3 linked regions of the Homo sapiens genome follow. The protein of the gene in region 2 interacts with the protein of the main gene of each other region in a biochemical or structural test. Each region holds a gene or a part of one and is shown on either strand. Other genes may lie near its edges. The genes, in order: HNF4A, PHF2 and NR1H4.

Region 1 (7,133 bases), on a different chromosome or scaffold from region 2:
CACACACACACACACACACAACGTGGCTGCTTTGTGGTGGCGCAGACAGGCAGGCAGGGGTGGTGGTTGCTGGGAGCCTGAGGAGCCAAGAGTGGGAGCTTATCTCTCTGAATCTTTCTCAAGACCAAGCCCAGCCGCTCCCTATGGTCAGATTTCCAGGCCCTCCCTCTTCTCAGCCATTAGCCAGTCACCCTGGGGCCTGCCACTGAGTCATAAAGTGTGGCTACAGTTGTAAATGACTGTCGGGGAGCTGTGGGTGCAGGTGGGGCAGTGGTGGTGGGGCGGGGAGGGCCGAGGCTCACCTTCCTTCTTCATGCCAGCCCGGAAGCATTTCTTGAGCCTGCAGTAGCGGCACTGGTTCCTCTTGTCTTTGTCCACCACGCACTGCCGGCTAAATCTGGGGAGGGCTTTGGATGGTTGGATGGAGAAGACACAACTTCCTCCTCTTAGGACAGAACTAGGGCCCTGGCTATCCAGTTGACCCCCCAACCTCAGTGCTCTCATCTCTTCATCCCGGGAGTTCTCTCTTGAACCCACCAGGAGCTGGAAAGGTGCTATGAACTCTCTAAGAGCCCAGTCCTGTCCTGCTAAACATGGGAAAACTGAGGCTCAGAGAGGCAACATGTGGTCCTGGGTCGCTCTGCTGGTTGGTGTTAGAGCTGAGTTGGGAACCTTGACCTCTGGAGTACCAGAGCCCTGCTATTTCCACCACATCCTATAAAAGCTCAGAACCCATAGCAGGCTCCTGGTTATGGCTCAGAGTTAATACTCGGTTCACATAAGCCTCTCTCTGGAGGGGGATAGGAAGTAGAGGCAGTGCCACACCGTGGTGATGGGTGGGGCCCTGAATGTTAACCCTGGCTCTGCCAGTGATTCAAGCTGGTTGACCTTGGGCAAATGCCTAGCCCTCCAAGCCACAGCTTCCTCCTCTATAAAATGGGAATAACAACAGTAACCATCTCACAGGGGTGTTGACAGGTGAAATGAAGTCATGCGCCGATGGGGCACAGTCTTTGTACATGACAAGTGCTCGCAATTGACAGCTGCTATGATTTTATTATTGTCATTACCCAGAACAGGAGATGCTTTCGAAAGAGGGCTCTCCAAGGCCTTGGGAAGACTTTGGGGTTGGTGGAAGCCCCTGGGGTAGGTGGAACGGCCTGGGGTCAATCTCCTATTTGTCCCAAAAACAGCACCAGACTGGAAGACGGGCTCATCTACTGAGGCTTCAGGAGAGGCCCCATGGAATGGGAAAAACAACAATGGGCTCAAGGGGATGGGTAAATACACACAAAGACTTAGTATTGTGCCTGGCATATGATAAGAGCTCAATAAACGGCAGCCAGTAGCTTGATGATCAGTAAATGTGGTTCCTAGAATAGATGCTCTTCTTGGATTCACAAAGTCTTTTACAAAACCAGAAGAGCCTTGAAGGCCCTGAAGGGCAGCTGTCTCTGGGACCTACCCACTCAGGGAGAAGACAGACCTTGGGGCCATGAGCCCAAGTGTGCCCATTTCCCAGCTGAAGAAATTGAGGCTCCTCACCTGCAGGAGTACATGTGGTTCTTCCGCACGCTCCTCCGGAAGAAGCCCTTGCAGCCGTCACAGCTCGAGGCACCGTAGTGTTTGCCCGTGGCCCGGTCCCCGCAGATGGCACACAGGGCGCTGACACCCAGGCTGTTGGGCGCGTTGAGGTTGGTGCCTTCTGATGGGGACGTGTCTGCGCCAGGAGAGAAGGGAGTGAGGCTTCAGGAAGAACAGAATGTCAGGCATCTAAGGGAGCCTTGCGGGGATCTCTCCAGGGCTTCGGCCTCAGCCAGATCTGGGGGCTGTTCCCACTCCATCACCTCCCCACTCAGTGACCTCCTGACTTTTTGGAGCTTCAGTTTCACATCTGTAAACTGGGGCTGGTTGTGACTTCACAGACTTGTTTCTGAGGGTCTGCGTCTTCCTGTGGTGGAGGCCACGAGCCCCAGCTTTCTCTAGGAAGGCATGAAAACCTGGCCACCTTCTGGGGTGGGAGCCGGCCTCCTAACTCGCAAGGGGGCTGTGGAAGGGAGAAACATTCCCCTGCATTTTCCCCAGAACCAGGTCCTGTCCCTCAGTTCTTGCCAAGGGACCAGGGCTGGGTGGATCTCAGCTTGTGTGCCCAGGGGCCCCGCAAATTCTCTGAGGAACGAGAAAGACTTGGGCCGAGAACAGTCACACTCATGTGGCCTCCTAGGAGGGTCTGGACACATCTCCCATCCCTCCCATCCCACAGGCAAAAGCTACTGCATCTACACAAATGTGAGGGGGGCCGTAGAGGCAGGTGGAAAGAGGATCTTGGGCTGGGTGCCAGGAGTCCTGGGCACTACTGCTGATGCTGCCACTAACTCGCCTGTAAACTTGGGCAACTTCGCTTTCCCTGCTTCAATTTCTTCTGGGCCTCATTTTCTCTAACCATAAAAGGCAGCAGTTTGACTGGTCTGTTTCCAAATTTAAAAAATTTAAAAAATTTAAAAAATTTGTTTCCAAATTTAAAAAAATAGCAGCAGCTGAACCCCCTTTATTTGTCAGCAAATCTTTCAGCAAAGATAGACCCCTTTGAAGAAGATGACAAATGCAATGGGTCAGCCCCCGGGAAAATGCAAGCGTGTGTGCCACACAGTCCACACACACGCACACACGCTACGCACAAGCACACACACGCACCACACAGTCCACACACACGCACCACACAGTCCACACACAAGCACACACACGCACCACACAGTCCACACACACGCACACACCACACACAAGCACACACACACCTTACACACCACAGTCCACACACACCACACAGTTCCCACACACGCACACACACCACACACAAGCACACACACACCACACACACCACAGTTCACACACACCAAGCAGTCACACACACGCGCACACACACCACACAGTCACGCACACACACACCACAGTTCACACACACCACACAGTCCACACACCACACAGACACACGCACACACACACATATATACACACATGTGTACACATACAGTACACACACATGAACACAGAGTCCACACATAAGCACACACACGCTCCACACACATGCACACACATACACACAGTCCACACATGCACACAGTCCACATACATTGCACACACTTGCACATAGTCCACACACATGCATACATACAAACACATCAACACACACATATACAAATGTGTGCACACATACAGTCCACACATATACATACACATACACACAGTCCACACACACATGCTCACATGCACAAACATACACACATACACAGACACACACACACACACGTGTATTCATAGAAATCCTGAATCCAACCTTGGATTCCTCAGGGGCATCCAGTTAAGACCCAGAGAGGGCCATGCACTGTAGGTAACAGCACAGCCTCTGAAGTCCTTCTGCCCAGGGTTCAATTCCAGCTTGCCCACTTTTTAGCCGTGTGACATTGACTGTGTTCGTTTACTTCTCTATGCTTTTGTTTCCTCACTTGTAAAATGGGGAACGTGATATTCCCCTAGGTTCGTTATGGGGATTCGGTGAATTCTCATATGTGTATGTGAAGTGCTTGGCACATAGTAAGCACTATATCAGTGTTCATGAAATAAAAACTTTTCCACATAGGAAAACTCTCGGAGCAGAGGACTTCCAGGCTCCTTGCACAAGCAGACACTGCCGCATCTCATTTCTGCCATCGCAGACTCCCAGGTGTCCCCAGGAGTGCAGCCCCCTCCACTTGGTGAATTATTCCTGGAGATGGGGATAATTGTTAAGCCACGTGGGTGCCCTTTCTCCCTCGGCCTCTCCTCCCCCGACCCCCGGGGAGAGCTGACCCCCACAGCTCCTGGCCATTCAGCAGGAGGCTGGGGAAGTAGCTCCCACCTCTGAGGCAGGATGGGCTGGGGGCTGTCAGCTCTATCATCTCCCCTCTGAGGTCAGCCGAGCACCTCTATTCCACAGATGAGGACACTGAGGCTTAGAGAGGAAAAGTGGCTTCCTGGTGTCATCGCACTGCTTCCCGTGAAGCAGAGCCATGGGTTTATGGTCCAGGCTTGCTGGGCTACTCCAGCCAGTGCCACACATGTTGAGGTGTCTGCTGGGCCTCTAATGAACAAGGAGCCACCCAGGGCTGCTGCTCCATTGGGGTGGGGAGAGGACGGGGGAGAAATATCCTTGGAGCCTTTCAGACACCAGCCCAGGATGTACTCAAAACACTTCAGAGGACAACTTCACATAACCCCAATTCAGACCACTTCAAACTCCAGTGAGGAATGTGGGGACCCTGCTTACAGATGCTCAGAGCCCTTGAGATGACCCATGGTGGGGCCAGGCCCTTTACCAGGGCTAAGCACCCAGGCACCTCATCTTATTTATCCTCTGGCCAGCCCTGGGAGACAGACACTATTATTTATTCCCATTTTATAGGTGAGGAAACTGAGGCTCAGAGAGGAAATTGCCTTGCCACATTCACACAGGTTGGAAGGATCTATGCCGGATTTGAGCCCAGATCTTTCTGGTTCCAGAGCTGGAGGTGGTCTTGTCTTTGGGACTCCCAGTTCAGGGGCTTGGCCTCTGCCTCAGGAGCACACAGTTCCTGGGCTTGGAAAAAGTGATGGGGGCGGGGAGCAGCCCAGGGCAGGGCAGTGGTCCTCGTGGGGCCACACAACACTCCACCTAGTGCAGCAGCAGCTTGTTTGCTATCTCTGGTGTGTTTTTGCCTTGCGCTCCTGGCGTGGTCCTCAGACAGGCCTAAAAGCCGTCCAGCCAGCAGGCCTGGGGGAATGAAGCCTGTTTTGTAGAAGATACAGAAGCCAGGATAGGGGAGGTGACATGCCCAAGGTCACACGTGACTGGACGGCAGGGGCAGGTGAGCACCTGCTGAGCTGACAACAAGCAGTGCCCAGCAGCTGCCTCCTCACCCTAGCTGAGCTGACCACAAGATTCCAGACCTCAGCTGGAGCTGCAGCCTCATACTGGCTGAGTGGCTCCAAGACACAGAAGGAAGCAGGGTGGCAGGCTGACCTCAGCCAGCTGCCTGCCCCCTCTCCTCTGAGGCTGGCCTGGGACCGATGGGGCTCTTCCCTCCAGGAGGGGTTTCCGGGCCTCCTCTTTTCCCCTACCTCCCTGTGGAGAACTGTCCACCCCTCCAGATATGCTCCAGTGATGTCGGAGGGGATGCCTCAATCTGGCGAGACGCAGCGGCAACAAAATCTGCTCAGAGACAAACGGACATGTTGCTGATATGAATCTCACTTGGTGAGTGGCAACAACAGAGTCCTGCATTTGGGTCTGTGCAGTCGTGCACACCAGAGACCGCTGACCCCCGCCCGCAGCACAGGGAACTGCATATATACACAGCAGGTACAAATATGGGCACACGACAAAACGCCCATACAGGATAAAGATGCAGGAAGAACAGGGCACTCCAACAGGTCCGCATGCACAAACGCATGTGCTCTATGACCCGCACACACAGCACACATGTACAAACATCCACAGACACAAGTACACACACATACACACTTACATACATAAGCAAGATCAACACGGGCAACTCCTAAGACACAAACACAGACCCACTCAATGAATACAAAGGAAAATAGACCCAGAACTCACACACAGAGACAAATGAACACACATATGCAAATGGGTTCCTGAAGGCATCACCCCACCCATACAACCTACATGGAAACTCACTATCACACACGAACGCACACACAACACACACAGTGCTGAGTTGGCTTCGTAGTTAGCAAAACTTCCCTGAGAGCTCCATTTTCCCTAAGTGCCAATTTCATTTCCCTAGGAAAGTCCCAAAGACACCGAGAAATGCGGTTATGTCTCCAACCACCATCTCCAGGGATACAACATCCCTTGCCGTCTCTCTGAACCTAGGCCCAAGGGGTTCACGAAGGGGCCGTGCTGGGCTGAATCGCTGGAGCTGGGCACCAAGGGGGAGCTCACCATCACGTCACTGTGCCAAGCGCCAAGCAGAGCCACTGTGAGGCAGTGAGGACTGGAAGGGCCTGGGAGGAATAGCCGGGATCGACTTTTGCTGGAAATTGGCCCTTGCAGGCCTCCCTTCACCCAGAATGCCTGTGATCACTGTGCCTGGGCACATGGGCTTCACTTGGCAACACCTGTGCTGGCCTGTAGGACCAACCTACCATTTTGTATCATTCTCCTCCCACCCCAAAGTTGAGTGCCAAAGATCTGCTCCTGGACCCAGGCACACCTGCCCCCACTGGCACACCTGGGCACATCTGCCCCCACCTACCATTGCCCATCGTCAACACCTGCACATTCTCAAATTCCAGGGTGGTGTAGGCTGGGTCCAGTGCAGCACTGTAGTCGGCCATGTCCATGTCGACGAGGGTTTTGGAGAGTCGCATTCTCCCTGCCTCCACGCCGCGGCCACCTGCCCTACCCTGGGCGCCCACCCCGAAGGCCCCCGCCCTCCGCCCTCCCACTGCCTCCTCCCAGTGCCCTCTCTGCCTTCCTTTCAAACCGTCCTCTGGGAAGATCTGCTGGGAGTCTTGGCCTAGCCTCTGTGAAGGGGTGGAGGCTCTGCCGGGGAGGGGTGGGGGTTAATGGTTAATCGGTCCCCCGCCGGTGGATAGGCTGGGCGGGGCTGCAGGGATTTGGCTGTTTGTTGGTTTCTGGCTGACACCCGGGGTGCTAATTACAACTGCTGGGGCCCTAACTCACCGATGTTCAGTTATCAATTGTACAAGGCAGGCATCATGACTCACGGGCACTCATTTGACCCTTGACTCACCCACCCCTCCAAGCCATTGTCACCCCAAGTCAGGCATTCTAACTGATACTATCAGGCACTGACAGCCTACCTCCGAGATCCCCTAATTCAATAACTTCCCAAATCATTGACTTCTACCCTCAATGCTTTTGCAGAGATAAGGCTGCCCCATGGCCCACGATTTAGAAACCTAAATCCCAGGCCCCAGATGCCAATCTTCTGGATCCTTGTTCTGGGAGCTCCCTTCCAGTTCCCCCGCAGTTTCCCGGTTCCCCTGGGAGCAGAATGGACTGGAAGTTTGGGAGGGCCAGATTCACCTCCAATTCCCCGCTCCTGCTCCCTGTGATCCCACCCTGCCCCTCT
Region 2 (7,133 bases):
CAGGGCCCTGTGAAGAGGCCAGGGCTGCATCCCATGGGAGGGCCTGGCAGGGAGGTCCCCAAGGAGCCCAGGACTTGGCCTTGGGGGTCCTTGCTGTCCAGCAGCACCAAGCCCCTGGTTCTGTGGGATGACAGTGGTCACCCCATTTCACCACTCTGTGAGCCTAGACAGGCTGATCACACACTGGGTGTCTCAGAAGATTCTTCTGGAAGGAGGGGAGCCAGTGTAGACAGGAGGAGGTGTGTGCATAGGCATGGGGCAGAGGAGGAGGATGCGGATGCGAGACAGGCTGGGCGCTATGGGAGGGGCCACCTGAAGCTGAGGGCAGCGGGGGTGCAGACAGGGCAAAGAGAAAGCCTGGGAGTCTGTGTGGAGCCTGCCAGAAGTGGGTGAACTTGGACTGAGCTGAGGTGCAGCTGTGTCTGTTCAGGTGCAGATGCAGCTGCAGGTCTATGTTCAGGTGGGTGCAGGTGTGGGGGTAGGTGCAGGTGTAGATGCAGGTGGGGGTGCAGGGTGGGGGTAGGTGCAGGTGTAGACGCAGGTGGGGGTGCATGTGTGGGGGTAGGTGTAGGTGCAGATGCAGGTGTGGATGTAGGTGTGGGAGTAGGTACAGGTGTAGATGCAGCTGTGGGTGTGGGAGTAGGCACAGGTGTAGTTGCAGGTGTGTGGGAGTAGGCACAGGTGTAGATGCAGGTGCGGGTGTGGGAGTAGGCACAGGTGCAGATGCAGATGTGGGTGTGGGAGTAGGGTCAGGTGTAGATGCAGATGTGGGTGTGGGAGTAGGGTCAGGTGTAGATGCAGGTGTGGGTGTGGATGTAGGTACAGGTGTAGATGCAGATGTGGGTGTGGATGTAGGTACAGGTGTAGATGCAGGTGGGTGTGGATGTAGGTACAGGTGTAGATGCAGATGTGGGTGTGGGAGTAGGTACAGGTGTAGATGCAGGTGTGGGTGTGGATGTAGGTACAGGTGTAGATGCAGATGTGGGTGTGGGAGTAGGGTCAGGTGTAGATGCAGATGTGGGTGTGGGAGTAGGGTCAGGTGTAGATGCAGGTGTGGGTGTGGATGTAGGTACAGGTGTAGATGCAGTTGTGGGTGTGGATGTAGGTACAGGTGTAGATGCAGGTGTGGGTGTGGATGTAGGTACAGGTGTAGATGCAGGTGTGGGTGTGGATGTAGGTACAGGTGTAGATGCAGATGTGGGTGTGGATGTAGGTACAGGTGTAGATGCAGGTGTGGGTGTGGATGTAGGTACAGGTGTAGATGCAGATGTGGGTGTGGGAGTAGGCACAGGTGTAGATGCAGGTGTGGGTGTGGATGTAGGTACAGGTGTAGATGCAGATGTGGGTGTGGGAGTAGGGTCAGGTGTAGATGCAGATGTGGGTGTGGGAGTAGGGTCAGGTGTAGATGCAGATGTGGGTGTGGGAGTAGGGTCAGGTGTAGATGCAGATGTGGGTGTGGGAGTAGGCACAGGTGTAGATGCAGGTGTGGGTGTGGGAGTAGGTACAGGTGTAGATGCAGGTGTGGGTGTGGATGTAGGTACAGGTGTAGATGCAGGTGTGGGTGCGGATGTAGGTACAGGTGTAGATGCAGGTGTGGGTGTGGATGTAGGTACAGGTGTAGATGCAGATGTGGGTGTGGGAGTAGGCACAGGTGTAGATGCAGGTGTGGGTGTGGATGTAGGTACAGGTGTAGATGCAGGTGTGGGTGTGGATGTAGGTACAGGTGTAGATGCAGGTGTGGGTGTGGATGTAGGTACAGGTGTAGATGCAGATGTGGGTGTGGGAGTAGGGTCAGGTGTAGATGCAGGTGTGAGTGTGGGAGTAGGCACAGGTGCAGGTGCAGGTGTGGGTGTGGGAGTAGGCACAGGTGCAGGTGCAGGTGTGGGTGTGGGAGTAGGCACAGGTGTGAGTGTGGGAGTAGGCACAGGTGTACATGCAGGTATGGGTGTAGGTACAGGTGCAGATGCAGGTGTGGGGGTAGGTATAGGTGTAGATGCAGGTATGGGTGTAGGTGTAGGCACCAGTGTAGATGGAGGTGTGGGTATGGGTGTAGGCACAGGTGTAGATGCAGGTGCGGGGGTGGAGGTAGGTACAGGTGTAGATGCAGGTGTGGTTGGAGGTACAGGTGTAGATGCAGGTATGGGTATAGGAGTAGGTACAGGTGTAGATGCAGGTATGGGTATAGGAGTAGGTACAGGTGTAGATGCAGGTATGGGTATAGGAGTAGGTACAGGTGTAGATGCATGTATGGGTGTAGGTGTAGGAACAGGTGTAGATGCAGGTGCAGGGGTGGAGGTAGGTACAGGTGTAGATGCAGGTGTGGTTGGAGGTACAGGTGTAGATGCAGGTGCAGGTGTGAGGGTAGGTACAGGTGTAGATGCACGTATGGGTATAGGAGTAGGTGCAGGTGTAGATGCATGTATGGGTGTAGGTGCAGATGCAGGTGTGGGTAAAGGTGGGGGTGTGGAGAGAAGTTGCAGGTCACTGGGGAAAGCGTGTGCCATGGGAGGGAGTGGGCTACGCTGCCCCATCTCAGGGTGACACATGGGAAGGTTCCCTACAAAGTGGGGTAAGGAATGCCCAGGGCTAGTTCTGTAGTTGGGAGAGAGGCACAGGGTGGACCGAGGGGGTACACAGAGTGGCTGGGGTGCAGGAGGAAGGTCACTGAGTCGGCTTGCTGGCTTTAAGGTGTGAGAGACCAGTGCGTGACCATATGAGGGTCTGGACCCTCCTTCCCATCTGCTGTCTTCCGTCTCCTCTCCATGCCCATCTCTGTCTCCAGGCCTCCAGCCCTCCCTGTGGCATATGGGTGGATGAGCAGAGCTGGATGAGGGGAGTGGCTGGCCTCTTCCAAGGGAGAAGTCATCAGCTCACTGCCACCCTCTCTGCTCCACGCCCTCTGCCTGCCACCTGGGCCAGGAGTTTGTGCAGGAGTTTGTGCAGGCCATAGGCTGTTGTTTAAGTGCCTGGGCTGCAGGCCAAGAGCACTGGGCTGAGTGCCTGTCTCTCTGTGCCCCTAGCCAGCCCCCGGCCTCCCCCAGCACACAGGAAGCCATTCAGGGAATGCTGTCCATGGCCAACCTGCAGGCCTCCGACTCCTGCCTGCAGACCACGTGGGGAGCTGGCCAGGCCAAGGGGAGCTCGCTGGCTGCCCATGGTGCCCGGAAGAATGGGGGTGGCAGTGGCAAGAGTGCAGGCAAACGACTGCTGAAGAGGGCTGCCAAGAACAGTGTCGACCTGGACGACTACGAGGAAGAGCAGGACCACCTGGATGCCTGCTTCAAGGACTCAGACTACGGTGAGTGTCACTCCTGCGTGGGGCAGGGCCCATGCTCAGCCCTAGAAGGCCTGGCTGAGAATGGAGACAGTAGCATAAACATGCAGCTCTCCAAGTTACAGCAGGCCTCAGCTCAGCAAAACCCTCGGCCTCTGACTGCTGTCCCCGGAGACCCTCCTGTGAGCGAGACTGGCCGGGGCCCACATCTGGTGGACAGGCTTGGGCTTCGTGGTGGGGCCTACTCTAGTTTGACAAACAGAATGACAGCAAAGTGAACTCCTGTTTTCTGGGCTCTGGAGGTGTGTGGCACCGGGCGCCATCTTGCTTCCTCCTGAACCTTGGGTCCTGGGCATTCCTCGACAGGCCCCGGAGGTTGAAGGACCACAACCTGCAGTGAGTGTAGGGTGGCACTTGGCTTTTGAGGGTCACAGGGTCACCGCCTCACCGTGTTGGGGCAGCTCCCCACCAGCCACAGGTCATGCCCTACAGTGTCCCCTCCACCTAGACCCGCCAGGCAGGGTGGGGGCTGTCAGAGCCCACCCTCCATGGACGTTAGACGTTTTCCCTTTTCATAGCAACGGAAGGAGTTGTGAGGAGTTTTCACCAAACAGAACCTTTCCTGGAGCCTCAAAGTGTTTCTCTTGCAGGAACTGAGATGCCCTAGTTTGATTATGGGGTCCCATCCTTCCCTGGTTCCCCACTCTCTGCTGTAGCTTCCTCCAGGTGGGGCCTCTGGGGATCTCAAGCTCCATGAACAGATGTACGGAGGGCAGCCCTTAGAGGCCAGGGGCTTGCAGGCACTGGGGCTAGGCTGCACAGATGAGGCTGGGCAGGTAGATGCAGGTGCCTTCTTGTCTGGAGAGTCCCTGCCCCTCTGGATAATCTCTGGGGCCTGTGCCCATGCCTGGGGTGTCCTCACCATGGGCAGCTTCCATCACAGCTGACAGTGACACAGCGTGGCAGGCCTTAGTGTAGGCCCTGGGGTTGCTGGCGAGGAAGGTCTGCAGCCACCTGTACCCCCCCGCCCTCCTCCGTGGACCTGCCCTGCACTCAGCGGGCCACGCCTTCCCTCTGCCTCCCTCTAGTTTACCCCTCACTGGAGTCAGATGAAGACAACCCCATCTTTAAGTCCCGGTCGAAGAAAAGGAAAGGCTCAGACGACGCTCCCTACAGCCCAACAGGTAGTGCTGGGACAGGGGTAGGGGGTCCACCTGACACCCAGTGTGGAAGCTGTGACTTTGTCTGTGGTCCCTCCAGCCCCTGAGAATGTGGGCTCAGCTCTGCACCTGTCCTATCCTGAGGGCTGGGCAGCCCGTCCCGCTGGGGTTGGTCAGCTGCTTGCAGGAGTGCCGTGGGCTTCACTTCTGCTTTGCTTCTGGGGGCCTGGGAGCCCAGATGTGCTTCTACACAGCCCCAACTCAAAAGCCCTCACTCCTCTGGCTGGCTCCTCTCTGGTTTCTTCCTCAATGGGCAGCTCTGTGAGGGTCACCTTTGTACCGGAGGCACCCACTTGATGGTGGCTGAGGGACACCTGCTGGGGCAGCCAGTGGGGTGAGGCCTTGTCCACCTTCCACATTACCCTCACCCGCCTGCCCAGACTCTGATGTTGCTGGGCCTCCTGGGCTCTGCCCCATGCAAACCCCACTGTGGCATCTTCCCCCTTGGGTGGGGCAGCTGACCCTGCCCTATTGTGAGGCGGCTTCACAGCCAGGAATCCCTGTGCTTAGGCCTGCCTGGCCAGGGGGACAGGCTGGGGTGGGGGCAGGGTAGCCCCAAACCAGGAGGGGTGGACAGGCTGTGGCCTACAGCTTGAGGGGGCTGGCCCTTCTTTTCCACAGCAAGGGTCGGCCCATCGGTGCCAAGACAGGACAGGCCTGTGCGTGAGGGTACACGGGTGGCTTCCATCGAGACCGGGCTGGCGGCTGCTGCAGCTAAGTTGTCCCAGCAGGTGAGGAGGGGCGAGAAGGACACACGGCAGCCAGGTCCCTGCTACCCCCACCTGGTGGGCTCAGGTTCCCCAAGGCACCTGTTTCTCCACCCCATACACAGACCCACTGAGCCAGGGGTGGTCACAGGCTTGGGGACATTTGATTAGAGAGTGCCCTATTCCTCCAGGCCCTAAATTCCCCGTGTGGGGTCCGGGGGAGCTAGGAATTGACGACTGGGGCCCTGACACTGGACAGCCCTATTCGTGCCAAGGCTGGGCTACTCTCTGGTACAACAGCAGCTTGGAGGGAGCTCCCCTTCCCCTCCCCCCATCATGTGGGTGTTTTTGAGTTGTCCTCAGTTGGGAAATGAGGTGTTCTGTCTCTACATGCTCCTAAAAATCTCATCTCCCACCTTTAGCTCCTCCCAGCTCAGAAATGGAGGGTCCTAGAGCCTCACATACCCTCCCAACCAGGCCCAACCTCATCTGGGCACACAAGGAAGTTATTAGGATCAAAGTGAATATTCTTCCAGAACTGGGAGATGTATATGGCCACTGAGTGGGGTGATGGGGTAGGAGTGCCATCCTACAGGCTCAACTGCTAGGTTAACTCACACTGACAGGGAGGCCAGGCAGCTGCTGTGGGTGCTGGCGCCCTGTCCGTGTGCATGCTGTGCCCCTGGCGGCCCAGAGTCAGGCCTCAGGCCCCTGCTGCCCAGCCCTGCTGTGCTCAAGGGCCCCTGGCAAGGCCATGCCGGGAGCTCCCTGCTCTGTTGGCCCAAGTGGGCTGTGCGTCTGAGGCTGCCCTGCATGTTTTGTTCAAAGGAGGAGCAGAAAAGCAAGAAAAAAAAGAGTGCCAAGAGGAAGCTGACTCCTAACACCACCTCCCCTTCCACCTCCACCTCCATCTCTGCCGGCACCACCTCCACCTCCACCACGCCAGCCTCTACCACCCCGGCCTCCACCACCCCGGCCTCCACCAGCACGGCCAGCAGCCAGGCCTCGCAGGAGGGCAGCTCGCCAGAGCCCCCGCCTGAGTCGCATAGCAGCAGCCTGGCGGACCATGAGTACACAGCCGCTGGCACCTTCACCGGGGCCCAGGCTGGCCGCACCTCCCAGCCCATGGCCCCTGGGGTCTTTCTCACACAGAGGCGGCCCTCCGCATCGTCTCCAAACAACAACACCGCTGCCAAAGGTACTGTGCCTGCTGGAGGGAGCCTGCAGCCCCCCTGCCCTGCCTGCCCCCATGGGCAGCCCCAGACATGCAGACTCGGCCCATGGTAGAGGGCAGCACATTGGGAGGGCTCCTGGGCCTTGGGTGGCAGGGTGCTGTGGTCCAAGTTGGTTGCATCTTTGTGTGAGCGTATCCCACAGTACAGGACGTGTGCTTTCATCCTTCTGCTCAGTGGGCGTGCTCAGCCCCTGATCTGCCTGCACCCCTGCACCCCAGCCGTGGGGCCGGCCAGCTGTGGGGACTGAGTGATGCAGCACGGGGTGCTGGCAGTGGCTCCTGGCCTTGTTACTGGGGGTGGTGCCCAGGCATCCTCATGTCCTCCTCATAATGCCATCCCCAAGCCCATGTCCATCCTACCTGCCAGGGCCCCTTGAGGACACGGCCTCTGAGGCGGAGGCTTTGCCAGTGATCCCAGACTCCTGAAGGGTGCTGAGCTCGGAGCTGGGGCTTCATAGGCCCATTTTACAGATGGGGGACTGCAGGCTGCCCCTTAGTGTCAGCGGGACCCTCCCCCCCACCGGCATGCCACGCCCCTTGCCATCTAGCTTACCTTCCCTTTTTGTGTCCCCTCCCCGACTCCCCTAGGAAAACGTACGAAAAAGGGCATGGCGACCGCCAAGCAGAGGCTTGGGAAAATTTTGAAAATTCATCGGAACGGGAAACTACTCCTTTAAGATTTGGAAAGCCAGGATCCT
Region 3 (7,133 bases), on a different chromosome or scaffold from region 2:
TCTGAGACAGAGTCTTGCTCTGTTGCCCAGGTCGGAGTGCAGTGGCACGACCTCAGTTCACTGCAATCTTCATCTCCCGGGTTCAAGTGATTCTCCTGCCTCAGCCTCCCGAGTAGTTGGGATTACAGGCATGCACCACCACACCCAGCTAATTTTTGTATTTTCAGTAGAGACAGGGTTTCACCATGTTGGCCAGACTGGTCTCAAACTCCTGACCTCAAGTGATCCACCCGCCTTGGCCTCCCAAAGTGCTGGGATTACAGGCGTGAGCCACCGCGCCTGACCTGGAAATATATTCTTAAGGAAAAAGAGAAAAGAGCTCTAGGAAAAGAAAAAACGTTTTATTTTTCCAAGTATTTGGTCTTCAAGCAGCACTCAAACTGAAGTTCTTTCCAGGACAGAAATACAGATTTAGAATAAATAGATACTTCCGAAAATCCAGAGACACGTCAAGGACAACATATGGCCAACAAGGATGGCTGCGAGCCAATATGACCATTGGACCACATCATTCTGAAGACAGTGCTCTATAAGAACCAAACAATTTTTATTACTATCTTAGTAACCACTACATAGATTTTTAGTGATAGATTAAAATAAAATTTAATATTTAAATTAACATTTTAATTAAATTTTTAATAATAGCATTCTCTGGATCATATCTATGATCAACTTATACTGATATTCAAACTAATCAACCTCAGTTTTGTTTGTGCCCATTAGCAGCAAGAAATATGACTTGTTTGTCAAGAACTATGACAGGCCAGGCACAGTGGCTCATGCCTGTAATCCCAGCACTTTGGGAGGCTGAGGTGGGTGGATCACCTGAGGTCAGGGATTTGAGACCAGCCTGGCCAACATGGTGAAACTCCATCTCTACTAAAAATACAAAAATTAGCTGGGCACGGTGGCACACGCCTGTAGTCCCAGCTACTTGGGAGGCTGAGGCAGAAGAATTGCTTGAACCCAGGAAGCAGAGGTTGCAGTGAGCCGAGATTGCGCCACTACACTCCAGTCTTGTGACAGAGTGACACTCTGTCTCAAATAAATAAATAAATAATAAAATACCTGCATCAACTAGATATCCACAGCTTTCAAAGCGTCTCTGCTCTCTGGAGCTTACACAATGGTGCCTAAACAACAGCTGACCTTTATTTCCAACTAGATGTAGAAGAAGCACCTGGAGTTGAGGCTTCCAGGACCAGGAACCTGGAAGTGAATGTCTTCTTAAATTTTGCACCCTCAGTGCCTCACTTGCCTAGCTCTAGGCCTAGCCCTGCTTCTCAACTCCTTGATTAGCACAAACTCCAGGAGACGTTCATAGCCCTGGGTACTTCTTCTTTGCAGTGGTGTTACCATTGTAATTCAACCTTTGTTTTTGTGGATTTGGTTTTCTGTGTCTCCCATTAAACCAGCAGCTCTAGGAGAGATTACATTGGATCTCCAATGCCTTGCACAATGCCAGCCAGGTACATCTTAGATGCACAATAAATTCTTGTTAATTGAGTAAATGAACAAATGGTTGCATGAATAAATAAAGTAACTAATACATAAATGAGTGAATGAATAATATACCTTACTAGATAACCACCTTTAGAATCAGTCTTGCTTAGGCCATAGGACAGAAATTAGTGAATAGAGGCATACAACACAATACACACAAGAGCCGAAGAAGGATTTTTTTTTTGTCACATAAAGAAATCTAACAACTAAGTCTGCTTCCCCACAATGTAGACTAATTAGTGAATGGTAACCATTTTTATTGGAAATCTCTTAAGCATAGGCTTTCCAGTCTCCCCATGGGAACCATTTTATACATGAGTTGACCACCCCAGGAAATTGTTTTGTTTTGTTTCAGGGTTTTTGTTGTTTGTTTGTTTGTTTTGAGACAGGGTCTCTCTCTTTCACCTGGGCTGGAATGCAGTGGTGCGATCTTAGCTCGCTGCAGTCTTGACCTCCCAGGCTCAAGCAATCCTCACACCTCAGCCTCCCAAGTAGCTGGGACTACAGGCATGCACCACTTGCCCAGCTAATTTTATTTATTTATTTATTTATTTTTATTTTTATTTTTTTGAGATGGAGTCTCGCTCTGTCACCCAGGCTGGAGTGCAGTGGTGCCATCTCGGCTCACTGCAAGCTCCGCCTCCTGGGTTCACACCATTCTCCTGCCTCAGCCTCCCGAGTAGCTGGGACTACAGGCACCCGCCACCATGCCCAGCTAATTTTTTGTATTTTTAGTAGAGATGGGGTTTCACCGTGTTAGCCAGGATGGTCTCGATCTCCTGACCTCATGATCTGCCAGCTTCGGCCTCCCAAAGTGCTGGGATTCAGGCATGAGCCACCGTGCCCAGCCCCAGCTAATTTTTTTAATTTTTTGTAGAGACAGGATTTCACCATGTTGCCCAGGCTGGTCTAGAACTCCTGAGCTCAAGCAATCTGCCCACCTCAGCCTCCCAAAGTGCTGGGATTACAGGAGTGAGCCACCATGCTGGGCCGGAAATAGTTTTAATTAATCTCGCGAATTTCCCGTTGTTAATTCTCTTCCATCAGAACTACCAGGAATAGTTTTGTTGTTGTGGTTGTTTGGTCTTCTTAATGTTCACTCTTCATAATCAGGAAAGTTTGTTTTTTCTTTTTTCGCATTATGTACATTAGTCAAAATGGTCAAGAAGCTATTTGTTGAATGCTTTCTCCGTGACTAACTTGTCATTTTTTTTTTCAAATACTTAATTGGATCTTTGAAATATTATGCCTCTTACTCATGGAAATTGTTTGCAAAGATGGCCACCACAATTGCTTCCTTTCCACACGCTCTTACAATGTGAGTTTGCCACACCTCTCATCAATGCACAAAGTCTGTTTCGCTAGCCCTTGGACCTGAGCTGGTCTAATAAATTCGTTGACCAACAGAATGTGGTGGAAGTGAGGTTGGGGACTTCTAAGCCAGGCTTTAAGAGACCTTGTAGCTTCTGTTTTCCATATCTAAGAAAGAATGCTGCCCTGAGATTGCCATACTGTTTGCAGATATCTCAGATTTAAAAATCTCATGGAGAAAGAAGTCCAGCTCTTCCAACTATCCCAGCTGACGGCCACATCAAGACCCCAGACATGAGTGAGGCCATCTCAGTCCTTTCATTCCAGTTGAACTCACATCTGAATGAGCAACATGAGTGAACCCAGGCATAACCAGCAGAGAAGCTGCTCAGCCGCCCCACAGAACTATGAGAATTAATGGATCATTCCTGTTTTATGCCACTAAGCTTTGGGATGGTTGTTACAAAGACATAAATGACTGGTATAGAAATCAGTACCTGGAAGTGAGATGCTGTCTAAAAAAACCGCTAACATATATGGCCTGGGCTTTGGGATTGGGGGATGATCTGAGGCTAGAAGGGCAGTGAGGAGACTGGTTAGTGGAAACTGGAAGAACAATAAGAAAATTCCCATAGGAGGTGGGAAGATGGGGGTCCTGTTTATAATCATGAAACAATCAGTAACACTGTCTCCTGTGGTAACTTGGAAGATAGAAATGTTTCTAAACTTATAGATCTAAGATTTCCCACTAGTACGGTGGATGTGTCAGTTGGTCTCTTTAGCTATGTGTGATAAGGTACTTACTCTTTAAAAACGGCATCTCAACATCAATTTCCCATTCATTCACTCATTTATTTTGTCAGTGCACATTTATTGACAGACACTAGACATAGTAAAAAATAATGATTTTTCAGAAAGCTTAGTGGAAAAGTCAGGCAAGAAAAACCCAATGGTAGTAGTGTGAGGATTGCTACAACAGAGCTAAGCACAGGTGCCATCAGGAGCACAAGCAGGGACATTCATTCATCCAATATTCATTAATTCTCTACTACATACCAAGTTTCGGTCTAGGTTTTAGAAATACAGTGGTAAGACAAAGAGCTTACATTCTAGAGGGATAAGTGAATAATACACAAGTCAACAAATAATAGGATTTCTGATGAGGATAATAAGAAAGTAAAAGAGAAGTATAGAGTGTTGTAGTTGAACACAGTTTTGGAGAGGGCAATCAGAGAAGAGCTCTCTGAAAAGTGGACATTCGAACTGAGATGTGAAGGACAAGAATGAGTAAGTCATACAAAGGGAAAATAAGTTCAGGCAGAGTGATCAGCAAAAGCAAAGGGCCTGGGCTTGGAGTGTTGGAAGAACAACACAAGCCCAGTGAGGCTGGAAATGAGTGAGCCAAGGAGGGGCTATAGGAAATGAGGTCTGAGAGTAGGCAGCTCTTGTATGGCCTGTTGGCCATGGTAAGGAGTTTGGATTTTCTTCTAAATGGAAGTAATTGATGAGTTTTAAACAAGGGTATAGTGAGGAGAATGAGGGAAATCTTTCTGAGCGTGGAGGGTTGATTCTTGAACTTAGTCTTGAAGGAATAGGCATTAGGCTAGGAAAATGACACGCAACAGGGATGGCTATAGGAAGGGAAAATAGCATGCTGTGTTCTGAGCAACCCTAAATAGTTGTCTATGCTGTAGCTAGTGGACTCAGCTCAAATCAGTGGAAGAAGGATGACCTATTCAAGAAATTGTGGCAAGAAAATTGCCTATGCTTTGAGGGTAAAAATAAAGACATCTTTATGAATCATTCTTGGAAAATACATCTCAGATGGATTAAAGACTGAAAATTATAAAATTATTGGGAGAAAATATATTTATGATCTTTATGGATTTGGGGATTGAGAAGGACTTTATTAAATAAGAAGTAAATAGGAAAAGAATACATTTGAGAACGTTGAAATGTAAGACAGAGGTTAAGGCATCACAAACAAAGCTAAATATATAAAAATGGATAAAAATATTTACAACATAAATAACACCAAAAATATTAGTACAAACAATATATAAACGATTCCTATAAATAAAAACAGAAAGGATAAACAACCCAAGAGAGAAATTGGCAAAGGATACAAAAAGGAAATTCACCAAAGTGGAAACACAAGTGGCCAGTAAACACAGAAAATATCTGAAACTAATAATAATTAGGAAAATGGATATTACTATAACTAAATACCATTTTCACCTATGAGATTATCAAAAAATTTTAACTTTGATAATATTCAAAGTGTATGAAAATATGCATTCTCACATATTGCTAGTGGGGGCATAGGTTTTAGTCTTTTTGGAGGGCTCTTTAGCAGTGTATCTTAAAATAAAGTGCAATTTTAATTCCTAGGTATCTTTCCTGGAGAAATCTTTGCTGGTATGCACCAGGATGTTCATTGTAGCATTGCCTCTAATGCAGAAAGAGGGCAAACCACCTAAAAAACCATCAACAGTGGAATGGCTAAATGAACTGTGCTCTATAGTATCAACTATTAGGAAGTGGTTAAACAAGATTAAAGTGTTTTGATATGTATTAACATTGAAACAGTGAAGTAGAGGAGAATAGGGCTAGGGGAAGGTCAAAAAATATTTTAGACTTATTCATAATGTTGAAACTTTTAACACAATGACTACATTAAGATATGTCAGTCTCCTAGGGTATCATTTCCTGTCCTCAACTTTGCCAATTATATAATCAGATGCTATAAGCAGGTATATTTAGATTCTCCAGAAAAGAAGGGTTTGCTTCATTTTCTTAAAACAATTTTAGGATTGTGCAGCATTTTTGAGCTTCAACAAAAATTATAAACCTCTCTCTAGGAAAGACATACACAAAATACAGATATTTTTCTAAATTAATAAATGTTTAGGAGAAATTTTATGTTCACTATAAAATTGAACAAAATGTATGGAGAGCCTCCATATACGTCTTCTCCCCCACCCCCCACACACATGCACAGCCTCCTTTACTTTCAACAACCAGCACCAGAGTGGCACATTTTTTTACAATCGATGAACCTATGCTGACACATCTTTATCAGCGAAGGACTATAGTTTACATTAGGGCTCAATCTTGGTGTTGTGTATTCTATGGGTCTTGACAAGTGTATAATAACATGTACCCACCATTGGTAATATCATATAGAATGAATTCACTGCCCTAAAAATTCTCTGTAAAATGCATAGATTTTTAAATGTAGTCTTAAGTGACCCTGGCCCCCTGAAGCCCAGCTATAGCCTCAGATTCAGAGTCGGGACTCCAGGAGAGCAAGAATCTTTTACATGACCACTTTGGAATGACATTTCTTTGTCCTGTCTCTGCCCTGCAAATTCTGGATGGCAACCAGCTTTTGCTCCTTAAGCCCCAGGCTGGTATCAACTTGTCGTCTACACTGGCAGCTTCCATAACTCTCTAGGACATGGCAGCAAATAGCTCTCTGCTTAGGAACAGTCACAGCCCAGAGCAGTGTTTTTGTTTTCTCTAATCAGCAACATCCCACAGCAGGACTATCTTCTCCATGCACAACTACATTATTTACCATGTTTTCCAGATAACTGTGTTAAATATATCTACAGGACTTGAAAATGCAAAGCCATACCATTTCTCCTTTTCTTTACATTAATAACATTAATTAAAGTGTAATAGACCCAGGTTGTCTCAGGTTCATTGAGACCTGGGAAAGGTCATCTAAATCTCTTTAAAATGGGAAGCAAAATCTCAAAGTTTTGTTAGGATTTTATATTAAAAAATGAAAATTAATAAAAATTTATTTTATATTTATACTTATTTATTTTAATCACCAGAACCCTGTTATATTTCTTAATCCTAACAAAGAATAAATCTTATTTTTTTTCCTGTGCAATATTTGCAATTTTACTTTGCAATCAAGTTGCATTATATTAGTGTCATCTTATCACCAATTTACAAAGCAGAGAGAGTAGGAATAGTAGATGTTCTTTTATGGCCAAAATTGGAAATGGGCAAACTGAGGGAGAAAATAATTCACTGTGAAGAGCAAAGGGGTTAGGGGATTCCAGAGCAGGGTGAGAGAAGGGAGAGAAAAGACAGAAGGATGAATATTTGTATGTAATAATGATTTTTGCCTCCTCATACAGCTTGGTGACTAAGGACACTCGTATGGTGATGCCTTTTAGCTACATCTTCACTGGTAGAAACTACTGTGACAATAAAAAAATACCTGGGAGGAAAATTGTTCCTATTTCTTATTTTTTAAAAAAAATTTTGAGGTGGTGTCTCTCTATGTTACCCAGGCTAGA

Evidence for each region.
Region 1: the proteins of PHF2 (region 2) and HNF4A form a complex in vitro, tested with the Homo sapiens proteins (one study listed by IntAct).
Region 3: the proteins of PHF2 (region 2) and NR1H4 form a complex in vitro, tested with the Homo sapiens proteins (one study listed by IntAct).

The regions. Positions count from the first base shown.
Region 1 is NC_000020.11:44,400,645-44,407,777, reverse strand, and holds part of HNF4A (hepatocyte nuclear factor 4-alpha), read right to left. Parts: exon of another isoform or gene 6,406-7,133; coding exon of another isoform or gene 6,291-6,405; intron 5,225-6,290; coding exon of another isoform or gene 5,134-5,224; intron 1,721-5,133; coding exon 1,546-1,720; intron 398-1,545; coding exon 303-397; intron 1-302. UniProt on the Homo sapiens protein: Transcriptional regulator which controls the expression of hepatic genes during the transition of endodermal cells to hepatic progenitor cells, facilitating the recruitment of RNA pol II to the promoters of target genes. Activates the transcription of CYP2C38.
Region 2 is NC_000009.12:93,670,565-93,677,697, forward strand, and holds part of PHF2 (lysine-specific demethylase PHF2), read left to right. Parts: exon of another isoform or gene 1-494; coding exon of another isoform or gene 495-855; intron 856-925; coding exon of another isoform or gene 926-2,541; exon of another isoform or gene 2,542-3,014; intron 3,015-3,020; coding exon 3,021-3,298; intron 3,299-4,362; coding exon 4,363-4,458; intron 4,459-5,115; coding exon 5,116-5,225; intron 5,226-6,029; coding exon 6,030-6,399; intron 6,400-7,023; coding exon 7,024-7,112; 3' UTR 7,113-7,133. Other genes in the region: fibroin heavy chain-like, read left to right, coding at 495-855, 926-2,541. UniProt on the Homo sapiens protein: Lysine demethylase that demethylates both histones and non-histone proteins. Enzymatically inactive by itself, and becomes active following phosphorylation by PKA: forms a complex with ARID5B and mediates demethylation of methylated ARID5B.
Region 3 is NC_000012.12:100,476,854-100,483,986, reverse strand, and holds part of NR1H4 (bile acid receptor), read right to left. Parts: intron 1-7,133. UniProt on the Homo sapiens protein: Ligand-activated transcription factor. Receptor for bile acids (BAs) such as chenodeoxycholic acid (CDCA), lithocholic acid, deoxycholic acid (DCA) and allocholic acid (ACA).